Linked DNA regions of Homo sapiens: region 1 is linked to region 2. Evidence: fine-mapped expression QTL. A gene starts in region 2. The other region holds a variant in brackets. All regions are shown on one strand. Distances are from middle to middle. Region 1 overlaps ELAPOR2 (endosome-lysosome associated apoptosis and autophagy regulator family member 2). Region 2 holds the start of ELAPOR2 (endosome-lysosome associated apoptosis and autophagy regulator family member 2).

What was found.
Region 1: its variant is fine-mapped to the expression of ELAPOR2 in whole blood (TOPMed, PIP above 0.99). The same link has a PIP of 0.9 or more in blood mononuclear cells.

Annotation. Positions count from the first base shown.
Region 1 is chr7:87,029,433-87,039,389 of GRCh38, reverse strand. All of the region lies in intron 1 of ELAPOR2 (endosome-lysosome associated apoptosis and autophagy regulator family member 2), which reads left to right. Among named protein-coding and RNA genes, the nearest start is that of ELAPOR2, 25 kb to the left of the region's middle. The variant TG/G (reference allele first, on the strand shown) is at 5,613.
Region 2 is chr7:87,054,321-87,064,277 of GRCh38, reverse strand. ELAPOR2 (endosome-lysosome associated apoptosis and autophagy regulator family member 2) reads left to right here and starts at 4,624. Exons shown (of 22, transcript NM_001142749.3): 1 at 4,624-4,953. The coding sequence starts at 4,765. RefSeq lists silencers at 4,347-4,736, 4,827-4,896 and an enhancer at 5,162-5,662.

The DNA.
Region 1 (9,957 bases), 25 kb after region 2:
ATTCTCTCCTCTTGGGTTTTCAGAATAGCTTGAGTTGGACCGAGATTAGTTCTTCTTGAAATGTTTGGTAGGATTCAGCAGTGAAGCCATTGGGTCCCAGGCTTTTCTTTACTGGGAGACTTTTTATTGTGGCTTTGATTTCATTGGTATTGGTCTGTTCAGGTTTTGGACTTCTTCCTGGTTTAGTCTCGGTAGGTTGTATGAGTCTAGGAATTAGTCCACTTCTTTTAGGTTTTCCAGTTGGTTGGCGTATAGTTACTCATAGTAGCCTCTAATGATCCTTTGCATTTCTGCAGTATCAGTTGTAATGTCTTCTTTTTCATTTCTGATTTTATTTATTTGTATCTTCTTTTTTTCTTAGTCTAGCTAAAGTTTTGTCAATTTTGTTTAACTTTTCAAAAAACTAACTTTTTGTTTCATTGATCGTTTGTATTTTCTTCATTTCATTTATTTCTGTGATTTTTATTATTTTCTATTAATTTTGGGTTTGGTTTGCTCTTGCTTTTCTGGTTCATTAAGATACATCATTAGATTGTTTATTTAAAGTTTTTTTTCTTTTTTGATGTAGACACTTATAGCTATAAACTTCCCTCTTAATACTGCTTTTGTTGTATCCCATAAGTTTTGGTATGTTGTGTTTCCATTACCATTTGTTTCAAGGAATTTTTCAATTTTCTTCTCAATTTCTTCATTGACCCACTGGTCATTCAGGAGCATATTGTTTAATTTTCATGTATTTGTATAGTTTCCAAAATTGCTCTTATTATTAATTTCTAGTTTTATTCCACTGTGGCCAGAGAAGCTGCTTGATATTGTTTCAGTCTTTTGAATGTATTAAGACTTATTTTGTGACCTAACATGTGCATTTCTTTAATCACTCATGAAGGTCAATATTTTTCGTGTCACTTAGCTTTTTGTATTTCACTTTTTGTGAGATTTCCTATTTAGGTGTTTGCATCGTTATGTATACAAGCTTTTAGTATAATAAGGATAATATATATTTCCCTAGACTTTTTCTTATCTGTGTGTTTTGAGATATGTAATATCCAGAGAAAGCAATTATTTAGTCCCTAAAAAGGTATATGGAATTACCTCCCTTAACATATCAAACTGTAATACATCTTAATTTCCAAAAAGAATGTTTGGTACATAATACCTTATTAAATCATTACAATATATGAAGGCTTTCAGGTGTTTGAGAAAAATATGGAAGCAGCTACAAAGTGACCAAGAATTCTTGCACTTGGATTGGTATTCTTGGTTCTAAGAGTGTGTTTTAGATATTTCATGACTATTCATTCTCTGTTACTTCTTTTTCAGTTGCCATTCATATGTTTATTAGCTCATCTAGCATGTATCTCACAGGAAAAAATTATAGGATAGTCTATGATGATAGTACAGATGGGTTAAGTGCTGTGATGGAGTCATTCACAGGGCTGTATAGAAGCACAGAGAAGAGGCAACTAAATCAGACTAAAGAAACTCTGGTGTCAGAGCAAGTGATGTTTCAGCTGAGTTTGGAAGGATTTATAGTAGTGCTTTACAGGATGCACAGAGACCACCACATCTCAGTCAAAGAAAATAACATGTATAACATCAAAGAGGAATTAAATAATATTATAATTTCAAGGGCCAACTTGAAGGGCACGTGGGTGGTGGTGGCAGAAGTGTCAGAGACTGAAGGTCTTGCGAGGCAAGCTATGAAGCGCTATTAACATCAAATTAGAAAGATTATTCTGTTGGCAAATGAAGGAACATAAAAGGGAAATCACATTGGACGCAGGAAGATCAGTTAGGAGACTCTTGCCTCTCTCACGGGGAGAAAATAACTAACAGAACTAAACACATGACAGTATGAATGGAGAGGGAGAGAATAGATGGATTTTACAGCTATTAAAGACATCTTATTTTCAGGAGTCTGCAACCGAGTGATACATTTCAGTCTACCATGACTTATAAGTTTTTGGTCTGAGTAGATGCTGCTGTCTTTTATTGAGATAAAAAAATTGAGAGAAGGAAAAGGAGGAGGTGGTGGTGGGGGCGGGAAATAGGATGAGTTCAGCATTGGACATCCTGAGTTTATAGTACCCTGGGCACACACAAACAGTGCTCTCCTGAAGACAGGTGGATGTACAGGAGTGCAGCTGAGAGACAACTTGGGAGCCATGAGTACATAAGAGGTAATTGAAGCCATTGATGTTGATGAGGTCACTTAGGCTCTGAGCATATAGCAAGAGCACTGTGTTGAGGAGAGTGCTTAGGGAAACAACAGCATTTAAGAAGCAAGCAGAGTGAGAAGCATTTGAGGATGAAACTGAGAAGGTACAGCCAGTAGAGAAGGATTAGCATTAGCACAGAAGCAGACTGGAGGTTGATGGGAAGGAGACCCGTAAATCTGGAGTATGATATAGGCAGGGTGATTTTTAATATTCAGGGTGTTTTCTTATTTTAATTTTTCAACTTTTAGATTGGGGTACATTTGTACGTTTGTTATCTGGGCATATTGTATGATGCTGAGGTTTGGGATATGAATGATCCCATCACCCAGGTACTGACCATAGTACCCAACAGTTTTTCAACCCTTGCCCCTGCTTTTCCCTTTCCTTTCTAATAGTCTGTAGTGTCTATTGTTGCCATCTTTAATTCCATGAGTACCCAATGTTTAGCTGCCATTTATAAGTAAGAACATACGGTATTTGGTTTTCTGTTCCAGTGTTACTTTGCTTAGGAAAATAGCCTCCAGCTACATCCATGTTTATGCAAAATACATGATTTTGTTGTTTTTTATGGCTCTATAGTATTCCATGGGGTATATGTACCACATTTTCTTTATCTAATCCACCAATGATGGTCACCTAGCTTGCTTCCATGACTTTGCTATTGTGAATAGTTCAGCAAACCCTTTTTAAAGATAGGGTCTCCTTGTCACTCAGGCTGGAGTGCAGTGGTACAATAACAGCTCACATAGTTTTGACCTCCCAGAGCTCCAGTGATCCTCCAACCTCAGCCTCCCGAGTAGTTGGGACTACAGGCACATGCTTCCATGCCTTGCTAATTTTTGTATTATTATTATTATTTTGTATAGACAGGGTTTCACCCTGTTGCCCAGGCTGGTCTTGAACTCCTGGTCTCAAGTAATCATCCCACCTCAGCCTCCCAAAGTACTGGGATTGCAGGTGTGAGGCACCATGCTTGGCCTACAGTGAGACATTTGAATTGTCATATCATTATTGACAAAATGCATAGTATATGATGAATGACGGAATATTAGGCAGATTCCTGGCTATTTGAACAAATGTATACTAAGATTATTAATGTATGTGATGCTAAACTGAAAGAACATCTCCAATGCAATACTTTTGTGCTTAATATCTAATTTCTGTCCTTTTACTGTTTTACTATTACCATTTTAAATAATACTTGGGTTTTGAGACGGCATAACCAAATTTTGTAAAGTCAGAAAGCTGAGAAGGATTCCTAATGAGTTGGAAAACAGAATTGGGATTCAAAATGATTTCAAAAGGCTAGAATAATGGGCAATCCAACATAATTGATTTAAATGTAGACTGTTCTTTTCTGGTTCTGAAAATCAGATGTTCAAGCATAGAATGGGAAAATTTTACTTAAAAGTACTTCTGAAGCCATAGCTGTCATATGGCTGCAAAAGCAATGATGGAGGGTCTTGAGTTCTGTTTATATGAGAAGAATGCCTTGTTTGTGGAAGGTAGACATTTATATTAGGTCATTAGTTCAACTTAGATGCAATATTTGAAGAGGGATATTGACAAAGGGTGACATTGGCTTGAGATGTGAATTAGGAAGATTAGTTATTTGGAAAGTACGTCACGGGAAACTAACCAAAGGAAATGGGGTTGTTTAGCTTAGAGTAGACTTGAGGGGGCCATGACATGAGCTTCAAATATATTAAGTGCAGTCATAATGCTATAATTGCTATAATGCTCATTTAGAGGACAAGATTTGGATTAGCGGGTAGTAGACAAAAGGATGCAGAATTTAGTTCATCTTAGAAGGTGTTTTACATATGCAGAAGCCATGAGCTTTGTCTTTATACTCTGAAAATTGCAGAGCTGCTTCTTTGGATGGATTGCAAACCTAGGTTCCATGTGTAGGAGCCATGAGTTCTAATTTACTGAACTTTGACAATTTCACTATGCTGGATTTAAGGGGCAGTTCAATGACTGCTCAGGGGTATATCCATACCTACTGTAACTGGTGAGAAGATAAATATTTGACCTTGATGCATTAGTCGTAGCTAGCACACAATTTTTTTTTTTTTTTTTTGAGACGGAGTTTCACTCTTTTTTGTCCAGGCTGGAGTGTAGTGGTGCTATCTTGGCTCACTGGAACCTCTGCCTCCCTGCTTCAAGCTTCAAACAATTCTGCCTCAGCCTCCTGAGTAGCTGGGATTACAGGCACACGCCACCATGTCCGGCTAATTTTGTATTTTTAGTAGAGACGGGGTTTCACCATGTTGGCCAGGTTGGTCTCGAATTCCTGACCTTAGGTGATCCAGCCGCCTTGGCCTCCCAAAGTGCTTGGATTACAGTCGTGAGCCACTGCGCCTGGCCACACACATTCTTATTCTGTCTTACTTAGCACTTTATTCTAAGAATGCTACAGTGTAAAAACACAGTGCCCTTTGGTGTTTAACCCTACCTCCTAACGTTAAGAGCAGAAAGAACTGACCCTTGAAAATGTAATGCAGACTTCTACTTGATAATTCTTAGGCATATAAATAATGCATAGCAGGAAATAACTTGAACCAAAATAATAATTGATGCTTAAACATATCTGAGCCTGTTATGCTAGGAAAGTGCTTCCCTATCTAAAGAGCAGATAAATATTAAGATCATTTACTTGAGGTTTTTTTTTAATGATCTCATTTTTTTCTACATTTGTCACCTTTTAAAGTTAAAAGCAATATATGCATTCCAGAAAAATGCAGCAATAAAAACACCCATAATCTCACTAAATAAGCATGCCACTTTTAACATCTTAGTATTTGTAATATGAATAATAAATAATAACAATAGCCAGGTAAAATTTTAAGTGCATTTTTATTTATTAACTCACTCATCTCCCTAACTCTAATTGGTAAGCTTGAACCGCCGCATCTTCTCCCCATGTTTAAGTTACTTGTGAATCCAAGCTGCTACACCAGGGCCCATACTTTTCACCATCAGACTATACTGCCTCTATTACATATATCAAAAGTCCTTTGCATGTATTTCATTATCAGTGTACACATATGGTTACAAAATGGTAATATTATGTACATATAGTTTGGTAATGTTTTTTGGCATTTAAAAATATGACATGAACTTACTCCCCTATTTTGATTCCTCAAGAATTTTATTAAGTACTTGATATGTCTCTGACTTTGTTCCCTGAATAACCAGTTTTTACAAATAGTGTTTTGAACAATCCATAATTCATCCTTTTTCTGTTGGTCTGTTTTCTATACCATCTATTGTGTATGTGGATATATAAAAATTTATAAGCTATTGTTTTATATATAATATGTGCTATATTATATATATGCACATTTATTCAATTTCTTTTGAGCTATTTTCTACACTATTGATTTTTTT[TG/G]TACAGATTGCAGAGTTTTATAATATAGTTTTATATGGTGGCACTTAATTTTCTTTCATTCTCAGCTGTTCTCACTTATTTAGTCTTTCAGTTCAACTTCAGAATAATTTTGAAAAGTTAAAAATTTTTTTTGGATTCTCTTAAGTTCGCCCATTTATTTGGAAAAAATGTCATATTTTTAGTATTATCTTCACATTTAAAGACATACAGTCTGTTTTAGCATTTATTGAGGCATTCTGTATTTCTCACTAGCACAATCTTTGTATTCTGAACTATTTTATGTTACTATTTTCCATGACATTTTTCTGCCAACCACTTTACCTTTTAATTGATTTTTCCCTGATATGTTGAAAAGCCACTGGTTTTTAGAAATTAATTGTGTATCTAGTTTCTTACAGGGCTGTCTTATTAATTCTAACGTTTTGTCAGTTAATTATCTTCGATTTTTTTGATAACAAGTTCCATTTATTGAGTAGTTAATGTGTGAAACACTTTTCTCACAGAAGTCCATGCCTCTGCTTTCAGAGATGAAGAAACTGAAGCTCAAAGGCAATTAATAACTTACAAAAGATGACAAAGCTAGTGAGCCATAAAGCTGGGATAGATTTGTCTCCAGAGAGCTCACTTTCCACTGAACTCCACTACCTCCCACTCTGCCTACACAGAACTGATCTATTATGCTTACAGCTCTCCATGACTGATTCTTAGAGGCTATTGATCGAATCTTATTAGGTGTACCAGGCAGCTATTTACAGTTTTTCCCAGTAGCCAATCATTTTCACATGATTTCTTTTTTTCAAGGTAGAGATCCTTTTCTCATGTGTTTCAGAAATCTTTCGTCTCCTCCAAGGTAGATGTTAATTCCACATTTTCACAAGGAAAGCTTTATGTACTGCTGTGTTTTACTCACACACAAGGTGTGTAGGTAGCCACTGGTCCTCCTGTCTTGATAGCATGTCTGTGCAGAGTTCCTAGTCCAGTTTCTGTTGTCTGAGAAACTTCCTTTTTATGCTATGCTGATGAACTTTGAGGATCTCATTCTGTCTATTAGATTCTCGATTAGGAGAATGTTTTAAAGAAACAGAGCTGTCTGTGGTTCTTCTATGTGAAGAAGCACATGATAGGTACTGGACCTAGGGCATTTTCTGCCTCTGTTTTTATCTGTACATTTCTGGGAGTGAAGGATGTACGTGAAGAGGTGAGAGTGAGATTTGTTAGTCTGATGTCATCTTAAACCAGAAATCTGTAAAACTTCAAAAACAGATGGCCTTTTTCTGTTGTTGGAAAACTATATTCCAAAGAAAATTCAGAATAAAAATTGATGGACAAATTGATGTGTAATTCTGTCATTTTACATCTTTTTGTTTTTGTTCTCTTCCTTACACCTCTTTCTTTTAAGACTTATCAGTTAATATGGCTCAGGCATTGCTGTAAGTGTTTTACAGATATTAGCCCACTTAATAGCAATCATTTGTTATTAGTTCATTCATCATTCATAAGCAAATGATGCTGCTTTAAAGTGATATTCAGACATTTTATATAGAAGTTAAATCATTGCCTCAATCTTTAAACAAATCTTTATGGAAGCTTAATTGAAGTGCACTCAGATACATATATTTGAAGTATATAAATTGATCAGTTTTGACATATGTAAGCACTCATGAAACTATTGTCATAATCAAGATAGTCATTTTCAACATCCCCAAAAGTTTCCTGTTTCTCTTTGTAATCTAACCCTTCCTCCACTCTGTCCCTAGGCAGCCACTGATCTGCTGTCACTACAGATTCAGTTGCATTTTATAGAATTTTAGATAAGTGGAATTGTATGGCATGTACTCTTTTTTGGGTGGGGGGCTGTCTTCTTTCACTTAGCATAATGATTTTTGAGGTTTATTCACATTGTGGTGTGTATCAAGTTTGTTCCTTTCTGCTGAGTAGTAGTCTACTATATGGCTATACACAATTTGTTATTTAATATACCTATTTTTAACATAATATAGTTGTAATCATAGCACTTGATATTCTTAAGCTCCAATAAGATAATGTAATCTATGATCATTAAATACTAACTAGTGAGTACTCCAGTAAGTTCTTTATAAAATTTAGCCGCAGCAGTCTAAACATGTAAGTGTAAGTACTAAAGGATTTTTGGCATTCTGAGATATTCCTGTAGGTGATTCTTTGTTTCATTCAGTATTTAACGCTGTTCTGATAAATCTTGATTTTTGGAGCTAACCATTCAGTTAGTCTATTAGATGTGCCTGCTGTTAGAACTATTAATATTTTCACTTACTTGCCTGTCTGTAGATCATTTAACTATCAATTAATGAATGCATGTCTCTGGGAGTGCAGGTGAGAAATGTGGATCTCATGCCACTCATTCAGAGGCTAAAATGAGGACTTTGTTTAGTTCATGGTAATGAGCATTGACATACTGTATGGAAATGAAAACAGTCTTTGTGTGTGTTCAGTTGGATGAACAATTAAATATATTCATTCCTAATTGAAATTATGTTTCTATTGTTAAAGAAAAACTGAGAGGAGTTAAATTTAACATTTGAGCAAGAAAAAAGTTCTAGAACCAGACAGCATTCCTGATGAAGGTGGTGATATGGTTTTTCTGTGTCCCCACCCAAATCCCATCTTGAATTGTAGCTCCCATAATTCCCACATGTTGTGGGAGGGACCAGGTGGGAGATAATTGAATCATGGGGGTGGTTTCCCCATACTGTTCTCGTGGTAGTGAATAAGTCTCATGCGATCTGATGGTTTTATAAGGGGAAACCCCTTTCACTTGACTCTCATTCTCTCTTGTCTGCCACCATGTAAAATGTGCCTTTCATCTTCCACCATGATTGTGAGGCCTCCCCAGCCATGTGGAACTGTGAGTCCATTAAACCTCTTTTTCTTTATAAATTACCCAGTCTTGGGTATGTCTTCATCAACACCATGGGGTAACAGAGTACCCCCACCTACAAACCTGGTGGACTATATAACGAGAAAATAAGAAATGACATACAGAGAGTACTTGATTGGTACAGCTGGCATGTACCTTCTTTGGGTGTAATCTGGCAGCTTTCAGCCTCTGGTTGTCTGCAGCTACTGTGATTTGAGACTCAGCTACTTGTTATAAGGGTTTACTTTTCATGAAATTACAGTCTGTTTACACAAGTTAGGTTATAGTTCATAATGTATGGAGAAACCATTATGCCAAACTCAAAATATGTACGGTGGCAGCTTTAGGCCAAACTTAATTCAGTTTAATGCCATAAATCACAAATCCATCAAGATAGCTAGGTTTAGTTGTATTTTTTCTTTTTCTTTCTTTCTTTTTTTTTCTTTTGGTGGGAGCTGATGAGAATTCTGTTGACTAACATGTTTGCATTTAGAACAAGATAAGCATTCTTTTAGACTAATAGTGTTTTTGCAAGTTTTGAGGACGCTTATGTTTTTCTTATATTGTTCCAGGAAGAGAAAAGGTATTGGTATGTACTGTGACTGACTGACATGTCCCATTTAGGCTTATCTCGTCTTAGAATCCATCTTTTGTAGCAGTAGGTGATCACCCTAACAGGACAGGGAGAATAAATGTGACTTACTTGGCATCATAGTAGTGAGTTCTGCACTCTCTATGACAGAGGCAGGCTAATCCTTAACCTGAAATTTTCAGCTATGGCTTTGTTTTCCTGATCTCTTCAAAATCAGATTGTTTACCTTTATTTCCTCAATTCTCTTTCCAATTCACTAGAGTCAGGCTTTTATCCCACTTATTTTCCTGAATCTCTTGTCATGGTTAGTAATCATCTAATTATTAGTGGTGTCTTTAATCCTCATCCTATTCCATCTGAGGCATTTGACTCTACTTCCAGGCTTCTGCTTTCTTATACTGTAATGTTGTGTCACTCATTGTTATGTCCTTATTTCTTTAGCTACTCTTCTATGACCTCTTTGTAAATCTCGATTGCCCCAGGTTTTTGCTTTTTGTCTTTTTGCATTGTAGATATCCTGTCTGAGTGATCTTATCCATATTTCTTTCATTATTTTTCTGTAAACATGCTTATTATAAACCATTTGAATAATTTGAACAAGCAAGAATGAAAATCACCTGCCATAACACCTATGGAAAACCATTGTTACATTATTTACATTACTTATCCAACTGCTTGTCTTACCTACAACCTTTGTTTAAATGACTCTAAAATCCAACCTCCATTGCATAGTTTTCCATCAAGTTCCAAAATAATATTTATGGCTCCTTAAATTATAAAAAGAATTGCGAAAAAGCACAATCCTTTCTTTAAGGAACTCATAGTCCAGTGAAGTAGCTCTCAATCTGGCTGCAAG
Region 2 (9,957 bases):
CAAAGTCTCAGGATACAAAATCAATGTACAAAACTCACAGGCATTCTTATACACCAATAACAGACAAACAGAGAGCCAAATCATGAGTGAACTACCATTCACAGTTGCTTCAAAGAGAATAAAATACCTAGGAATCCAACTTACAAGGGATGTGAAGGACCTCTTCAAGGAGAACTACAAACCACTGCTCAATGAAATAAAAGAGGATACAAACAAATGGAAGAACGTTCCATGCTCATGGGTAGGAAGAATCAATATCGTGAAAATGGCCATACTGCCCAAGGTAATTTATAGATTCAATGCCATCCCCATCAAGCTACCAATGACTTTCTTCACAGAATTGGGAAAAACTACTTTAAAGTTCATATGGAACCGAAAAAGAGCCCACATCGCCAAGTCAATCCTAAGACAAAAGAACAAAGCTGGAGGCATCACGCTACCTGACTTCAAACTATACTACAAGGCTACAGTAACCAAAACAGCATGGTACTGGTACCAAAACACAGATATAGATCAATGGAACAGAACAGAGCCCTCAGAAATAACGCTGCATATCTACAACTATCTGATCTTTGACAAACCTGAGAAAAACAAGCAATGGGGAAAAGGATTCCCTATTTAATAAATGGTGCTGGGAAAACTGGCTAGCCATACGTAGAAAGCTGAAACTGGATCCCTTCCTTACATCTTATACACAAATTAATTCAAGATGGATTAAAGACTTAAACATTAGACCTAAAACCATAAAAACCCTAGAAGAAAACCTAGGCATTACCATTCAGGACATAGGCATGGGCAAGGACTTCATGTCTAAAACACCAAAAGCAATGGCAACAAAAGACAAAATTGACAAATGGGATCTAATTAAACTAAACAGCTTCCGCACAGCAAAAGAAACTACCATCAGAGTGAACAGGCAACCTACAAAATGGGAGAAAATTTTTGCAACCTACTCATCTGACAAAGGGCTAATATCCGGAATCTACAATGAACTCAAACAAATTTACAAGAAAAAAACAAACAACCCCATCAAAAAGTGGGCGAAGGACATGAACAGACACTTCTCAAAAGAACACATTTATGCAGCCAAAAAACACATGAAAAAATGCTCACCATCACTGGCCATCAGAGAAATGCAAATCAAAACCACAATGAGATACCATCTCACACCAGTTAGAATGGCAATCATTAAAAAGTCAGGAAACAACAGGTGCTGGAGAGGATGTGGAGAAATAGGAACACTTTTACACTGTTGGTGGGACTGTAAACTAGTTCAACCATTGTGGAAGTCAGTGTGGCGATTCCTCAGGGATCTAGAACTAGAAATACCATTTGACCCAGTCATCCCATTACTGGGTATATACCCAAAGGACTATAAATCATGCTGCTATAAAGACACATGCACACGTATGTTTATTGCGGCATTATTGACAATAGCAAAGACTTGGAACCAACCCAAATGCCCAACAATGATAGACTGGATTAAGAAAATGTGGCACATATACACCATGGAATACTATGCAGCCATAAAAAATGATGAGTTCATGTCCTTTGTAGGGACATGGATGAAATTGCAAATCATCATTCTCAGTAAACTATTGCAAGAACAAAAAACCAAACACCGCATATTCTCACTCATAGGTGGGAATTGAACAATGAGAACACATGGACACAGGAAGGGGAACATCACACTCTGGGGCCTGTTGTGGGGTGGGGGGAGGGGGGAGGGATAGCACTGGGAGATATACCTAATGCTAGATGACGAGTTAGTGGGTGCAGCACACCAGCATGGCACATGTATACATATGTAACTAAACTGCACATTGTGCACATGTACCCTAAAACTTAAAGTATAATAATAAAAATAAAAATAAAAATAAAATAAATAAAAATTGGGGTTATTTATACCACAATCTGATTTAAGTTAAAAAAGAAAATAAATCTATTTATATAGCATCATTTTGGCTATGGCTTTTGTTGATACAGCTAAGGCTTTTGTTGACTTTTTAACAAAATTCAGTTCAATTTTCAGGTATACACTGCACAAATAAAGTGGAAAAATGATTATTACCTAGTGATTGTAAGCTATTTCAACCCATTCTTGCAAAAATTTCATTATGAATTTTCTATTAAAGTATATTTTTATAAAACTATCTTTAAGAGTAAATTTATTGATCAGATAATCACAAACTTTGAATAATTTGCTATTACATCCTAAAATAACAGGTAGAAGAGGACCTTAGAGTCTTCTTGAAATTTCCTTTCTCTGTCAGCCTTTATGCTGATTTTAATTATCCAAGGTCAAGATCTTTTTTATGGATGGGACAACTATGAGAAAAGTATTTATTGAAAGTGGCAAGTTGTCCTACTCTGGAAAATCTACAATTGTCATTTGATCCAAGTGCATTGACTGGACGACTCTTATTTTTATAAGGAAAGAAGCTGTTTTCAATTTAATAGTCATGTTGTTAGTTCTTTCTCAGATGACAAAAATCATAACATAATTTGACTCCTAAAAATTCCACATGAATTAAAGAATAAAGCATATAAAAAGGAAATAATAACAAAATATAACAAAATAAGAAAACATAGGCATCTGTATGATTTTGCAGAGATACGTGTACTTCTAGATATAAAAAAGGAAGAAATCACAAAAGAAAATGTTGCTACATTTGAATACCTAAAGATGACAAGCTTCTGCCAGAAAAGCTATCAGAAGTAAATTTAAAAGACTACAAAAAAGTATTTGTAAGATATATGATAAACATACACAAAGCTTATGAAGATTGCTAACGAATCAATAAAAAATGGAACTTCAATAAAATGGCTAAAGTGTGCCAGTGAAAAATTCTCACACCCTGACATGAGAAGGAAAAATGCAAATAGCTAGTAGATATATATAAAAAATCACTCGATGTCACCAATGATAAAAATACATTTTAAAAATAATAGCTTTTGTCTCTTCTACCAAAATGATAAATATCTGAAGTATTATAATCTAGGGTGATGTGAAATAAATACTCATAAACTGCTGGTAACAATTGCTACAAATTTTTTGGAAGGAATTTGTACACTATTCGTCAAAAACTTTAAAAATACACATATCATGTGATCCAATGTTTTCACTTCTAGAAAGTTATCATAAAATATTTAAAGATGCACACAGATTATGTTCCAAGGGCATTCTTTCCAGAATTATTAATAACACTGAATCCTTAAACAATGCCTAATATCTAATAGTAAATTACATGTATCTAAAGAGTAGAAAATATTTTACAATTATTAAAGTTGTGTTGTTGGAGACTTTAATGACTTGAGAAAATATTTATGTTATTAAGAATAAAAATAAAAGCAGGTTACAAATTATTATTCCAGTTTTGCAGTACACACAGAGTTAAAAAAAAAAAAGCAAGGAAATTCCTCAACATGTTAATACCATTAACAATGTTATCTCTGGGTGGTAGGATCTCTAGTTATTTTTATATTCTTCCTGATACTTTTCAATATTTTCCAAAATGTTTACAAATAACATATATTGTTATAATCAGAATATAGGTGTGATACACAAATCTATATGTGTATACATACACACAAACACACATATACAGAGACTTTCATGTGGAAATTTTGTTAAAAGGATATTAGAGATAATGCCACAAACAAATGTGCCACAGGCCAACTTATAATGAGTGGGCCACGTGGATTTGTCCAGATATTCAATAATCAGAAATTTGGATGCTTCTTTTGAAAAACACAATAACTCACCCATTTACAGAATCTGAGATCAAGAAGGGATCTTGAGATCCTTGCCACTGAGGAAGGCCTTATGTCCATCTTGTTCACCATCACCTAGTTCAGTATGTTTTTGAATGAAAGAAAAAACGAAGAGCACCTCAATCATCGCACAGATGGAGAAACTGTTTCCTCCAGAAAACACAGGGCTTAATGCCCAATGTTACACATCTCCACAAAATAACACCAATAGCAGCAATAATTATGGCTACTACTACCAACACATGTCACCTACTGTGTGCCAGGCACTCTTCCAAGTGCTTTATGTACATCAACTTACTTAATCCTCATAATAATCCTACGTGGTGGGTATTATTTTCATTAAATAGGTGAGAAAACTGAGTCACACACCACGTCTACACCTCAGTCCTCTTTCTTCCCCGCCATTTCATGCACACCCTAACTAGAAATTCGATCTGACGCTAGCCAGCATGGATCCTTACAAGGGATGTTCCGAGGGCACATCTGCGTGTTTGTGTGCAATGAGGAAAGTGGCGAGCTTTTTAAAGACCCACCGCCAGAAAACAATGTCCTGATGTCCTGTATTTACTCTGGCTTCATCCCGGGAGCGCCCCTCCCAGTGGGCCACGGGGACCTGAGACAGGCTACTCCACGGGGTCCCCAGCCTCTCTCGCCCTCTAGCGCGAGGCGAGCGCCGCGCAGCCCCTGGGGACCCGCCGGGCTGGGCCGCAGCCCCCGCCCGCGCCACCTGCTCCCCAGCTCCAGCGTCCCCGCCCCGCGTCCCGCCCCCGCGCCGCGCCCGCGCCCCGCGGTCCCTCCCTCCGGCGTGACGGGAGCATCGGCGCTGGCTGCCCGGGCCGCGAGCGCAGCAGAGCTGTCAGCGGGCGGACGGGCAGCGGGTGACGGAGCGGCGAGACGAGCGCACAGCAGTCGCGGCCCGGGAGCCGGAGCTGCCGCCGCACCCCGGGAAGGCTGCCTTGCCGCCGGCCCGCCGACCGCGGCCGGACGAAGATGCTGTTCCGCGCCCGGGGGCCGGTACGGGGCAGGGGCTGGGGGCGGCCGGCGGAGGCTCCCCGCCGCGGGCGCTCGCCGCCCTGGAGCCCCGCCTGGATTTGCTGCTGGGCGCTCGCCGGCTGCCAGGCGGCCTGGGCTGGGGACCTGCCCTCCTCCTCCAGCCGCCCGCTTCCTCCTTGCCAGGAGGTGAGCAGCACCTGGTCCTCTACCTGGAGTTTGCTGGGGGAGGGCGCGGAAGATGAAGGCTGAGAGCGGTTCCTGTTTATTTCTGTTTGCCATCCCCTTTTCCTTTGCTTGGAGAACAGGGGCTTTCGTTTGCTTCGAGGGGTGAAGTTGCCCGCCCTGGTAGCTGGCCCGGAGAGGGTGTGTGGCTTCGCTGTCTCTCGGGGGATGCTTTTCTGTCCGCGCTTGTGTCTTTTGGGGGCTCTGCAGGACTTTGCGGCGTCCTTTTTGGACAGCCAGGTTTGAGGACCTGGGGTCGAGGGAAAGATTTCAGGAAGGGGAGGAGACTGGGGAAGCCCCACCAGTGGGATTTGAAGAACCATCTCATCACAGCTTTTCCAGAGAGCCAGACACAGACACCAGAGGATTTCCCGCTCCTCCTCCCCCTGTCTCCACTCCCCTGTCTCTGCAAACGCCTTCGTCCTACTCCCCTGCCCTCAGCTTCCTGATTAAGGCCCTGTGGGTTTGCTAAGCCAATGTATGGTGTCACTTAGCATCCTTCTGACAAAATGTGGATTTGAATTTGGGGGGGAAAAAAAAGGAGTATGTACTTGGTAGAGAAGATGCAGGTTGATGATGGAGAAAATTAGAAAAGACAGTGAATATGCTTCTTTTGGGAGGTGCTTTATCACCTGGCTGAAGTATTGCCGCGGTGTATTTTATAGCTTGTAATCATTGTTGTTTTACAGCCAAAAAGGATAAACTATGGGAGATGAGATTTTTATCTGGCTTTTAGAAGAACGAGACAGTGTGCCAAAAATTTACAGGGGGTGTCATTGGTTCTTGTATTGGGTGTTTATCTTTCCATTTAGTGTTCAGAAAGTGCATCCTCTTAATGAAAATCAATGAGGGGAAGGAAGCAACATTTCTGACCTACTTTGATTGTGTTGGGAGGATATATGGAATAGATACTGTTTTTAGGAAGATTGTTAGGAATCAGGGCGATGGGTCGTTTTAATTAATGTAGCAAAAATAGGTTAGCCAATAGCCCCTCTGGGAAGAAAGGCCAGACCCTCTTGTTTGTGTATGTTGCTCTAACTTCTGAATTTTACCGAGACTTGAATTACAGAGTATCTGTGTTCTACACATCATCCATCATCTATGGATTTTCGTCTTTCTCTCCTACAGTACAGGTCCCAGGACAGACTGAAATGAAAGAGAATCGGATCAAAGGCTTGTGTGCGAACACACAGCAATGTTGTAATTGGGGAAATCAGGGCAAGAGCTCAACAAACAGCTGTGTTTAATTTTAGGGCTTTTTAGTATAATGAGCTTAATCTATATTCTACAACTTTACATATCACCTGGGAATAATCCATTATTCCAGGTTTCCACAGAAAGCTGCTTCTTGGACATCTCAGATTGAACAGTTGTGACAAGATAAACTTTATCCTCCAGCCCCCAACTTCTAATATGCAGAATATATTTTTCTAAACTGAAAAGTCTTAAGCTTCTGATAACATCGATTCTTAGTAATGAAAATCTGCTTGAAGTAGGCGAAGGTCAGGGTCAATAGAAGTGATGCCTTTGGTCTCTACAACTAGACTAATCTTTTAGATGAACACATGTCCTACACATGTATACCTAGAAAGAAGAGTCTGCAACCTAAAACAAAGATTGAAAGGAGGGGCAGAGAGATGACAGAAGGTTCAGGAAGGCTGGGTTCACTTGATCACAGGTCCTTACTGCATTGGCTTTAGAAATTGCATGTGACTCATCCGTTGAGATCTGAAATTTACATTTTCCTTCTGAAAAATGAGAATAAATAAAATATATAGGAGGACGCTATTGAGCCTGCCTTTGGCTGTATGTTTTTATAAATGTTAATGCACAGATCCATTTATGTTCTTCCTGATGACTGACAAGTAAGAGGAACTAATGGGAGTTAGAAGTTCTTGGAAGTAGAAGAGGCCTAGTGACCTCCCAGGGGTTGAATCTGTTTGATATCTGGTCTAACCAGTGGAGCTAATTTACAGAATTGGTCATTGTTTTTCTCTGACATTGTTTTTAAGAGGAAAGTGGGGAGGGCAAGTTATTTTCAGACTTTGAAGGTAAAGGAATGTTTGTGCTGGGAGTGGGGAAAGGGTATCCTCTTGAGCTCAGCCCTTTCCTCTGAATACAGTTATGGGATTGTGGGCTAAACGCCTGTGAATAAAGACACAGTTAAAGTAACTACTCTGTGTTCACTCCTGCTCGTTTATCATTTTCCACTTTTTGTTAACATTAAAGGAGGCAAATGCCACAAAGGACAGACTATGCAGTGGGGAACAGAGTGAGGGCAGTTAAAGTGAGGAATTTTCAGGCTGAGAGCTAAAACCAACTCTCAATGTGAGAGAATGTTGAGGAGTATAGAAAAAGCTATAGGCCATTTTGAACCTCATTTCCCCCCAGTAGTTTGTGTCACCCTCATTTATTAATATTTTTGTAGAAGTAGTCATGTTTAACAAAGTTACATAAACTCTGATTTTCCTGCCTGGTTTTAGAGGAAAGCAACTAAAGGAAGACAAATGCAGAGAACTGGCCTGGGAGTCATCCAGTTATAATTGCCTGAGTTCAGAAAAAAGGCCCTTCAAAAACTAGGTTATGGGTAAAAGTTACATTTAGATTTTTGCAGAGGAATGGACTCTGGGGTGAAACTCATAAAATACATATTCCTTTGTCAAAGTCTTTGGATTATGAAGTCGAAAGGGGGAGAAAAGTTATTGTGTTGGAATGTTCAGCTGGTGATCAGATCAGCAGTGTGGAAGCACACGCACAAACAGGAAGCGATCATTTGGGAGACAGAAATAAAAGGAAAGTCAAAGTGCTGGCAGATGAAGCACAAGAATAGGATGTGACTTTGGAAAATGGTATTCAAAGGAAATAAATGAGGCCTGGACATCAGAAAGTATAGAATTCCTCAGGTTTTTGTATGGGGTGAACTTATAAAAGGTAAATCTTCTTTGGGTTTCTTGGCCTGTGTTTCACTTATAAAATGTTATTAATGAAACATGACCAATTATTTGTATTATGAGGATGAAATGAGATTAATATAAGATAAAGGAGAAATATAAATATGAGGGCTGATTATTGCTAGATTAGTAGAGCTAGATCCTGATATTTTGGGAAGAGTCTACAGTGAGACTCCAGAGGTTCCTAGGATAGGCCCATCCAAGACTTGGCATGACATTTTTGACTCAGTGAATAATAGGACTTAATGGGGCTGCCAGAGCAAAAAAATATAAAGGCCAACAGATAATTCAGAGTTGCAGTAAGGTATCAGAAGATAGAAAAGTACATGAGAGTAAAAAGAACAGAACTAATTGGATTATGTCTGTATTATTTACATTTGGTAAATTAAATCACAAAATAGCTGATTCTTAGTTCACTGCTGTAAAATCTTGCATAATGCAATTCTGCTGTTCTCCCTGACTACTGAATGATGAGTTTTGCTAACAGTTTTTGTTCCACATTCAGTTTATACCATGTGCTAGACAAAATGTCAGATATGAAATTAGTAATTTAAAGAATATAATTTAATTGGATAAGGATGAGACAGATATGTAAACAAACATTGCAGTTAAGTGATTTGAAGCCATGAAAGAAGCAATGGGCCATCATATCTACTGAGGGGGGTGGGATCAGAAAAGGCCCTATGGAGGAAGTGAATGAGACTTAATTGATAAGTAGGAATTTGCCAAGCAGACAAGGGTCAGATGTGAGTGTAGGCTAGTTTGGGGGAAAGACATTTCAGGTGAAGAGCACAGATTGAAAAAGGGCAGAAACATGAAACAGCATTGTATTGTAATTGGTTCTAACTGAAGTACAGCATGCAATGAGAAGCTTAATGAGAGATGAATCTGACAGGCAGGCAGGAGCCTATCATAAGGGACCTTATATCACACTAAGAAGCTGGTCTTCATTTGGTAGGCAATAGGATGCAGTAGTAGGACTTCAAAAAGAGGAGTAGTATGCTTTAGATAGAATTGGCAGTGAGTGGATGCAGAGGGTGAGAGAATGAAATGTTCTAACTTGATTAGAGGATGGTGCCTCTTAACCTCCCTGAGAAGAAATGTGAAGAAGATGGGATAAGGAGCTTGTTCTGTCTGGAAGGAGTGACTTTATGTAGAGCTGTTGAGTAGGCAGTTAGGTATTATTAGGCCCTGTTCCTCAGGGGCATGGTGTGGGCTGGTGTGGTGACCTGGGAATAACTTGAATGGAAGACATTGTTGAAATGACTGGATTGGTTGAGATCATGCAGGGAGTGAGAACAAAGTGCTGAAGATAGGACTTGGGTTTTACCTACATGAAAGGGGACAGAAACCGAGGAGTTCACAAAGGAGACATGTAGCAATGGCTGGTAAAGAAGAAATGTGAGTGTGGAGTTGTGGGAAAAAGAAAAGCCTTTGAAGAAGATAGGGCTCATTGTGTGTCAGTTGCCCGATGAAATCCAAATAAGATGATGACTGAAGAGAGAAGATTGAATTCTGTGATTAGGTCACTGGTGCTCAGCACCAGAGTGTTTCCTATGGGATGGTGGAGATGGGTTGAGTGTTAACTGGGAGGTGAGATGGTGGTGATGGAGTGGAATTGTGTTATAGAGCCTTCCTAGATTTGGTAAGCTACTGGGTCTTCAAAATCCATGTAAACCACAAGACCTGTAATGGTCATGTTTTTTGTTTCAGAACTTGATGGGCACAGCTGAGAAACATCCTTTCTGTAGGAAGTCCCTGAAGGCCATGGGCTATGGGTGAAGCTGTCAAAGGTTCTACAGTCACACTGTTATTGAAGGAGTTAGGACTCAGCCTCTGTTTTCAAGCAGTTAACGTAACTAATCTTTCCTGTTAATGCCTGTGGAGGTGAATTTTCCATTTCCAGTTCTTATGCTTAGAATCATTTCTCATGTTTTAGGCAAATGCGAGCAAGTATTCACACCATCAATATTTACAATGTAAAACCAAGAGTTGACAGATCTGTGAAGTGTCATAT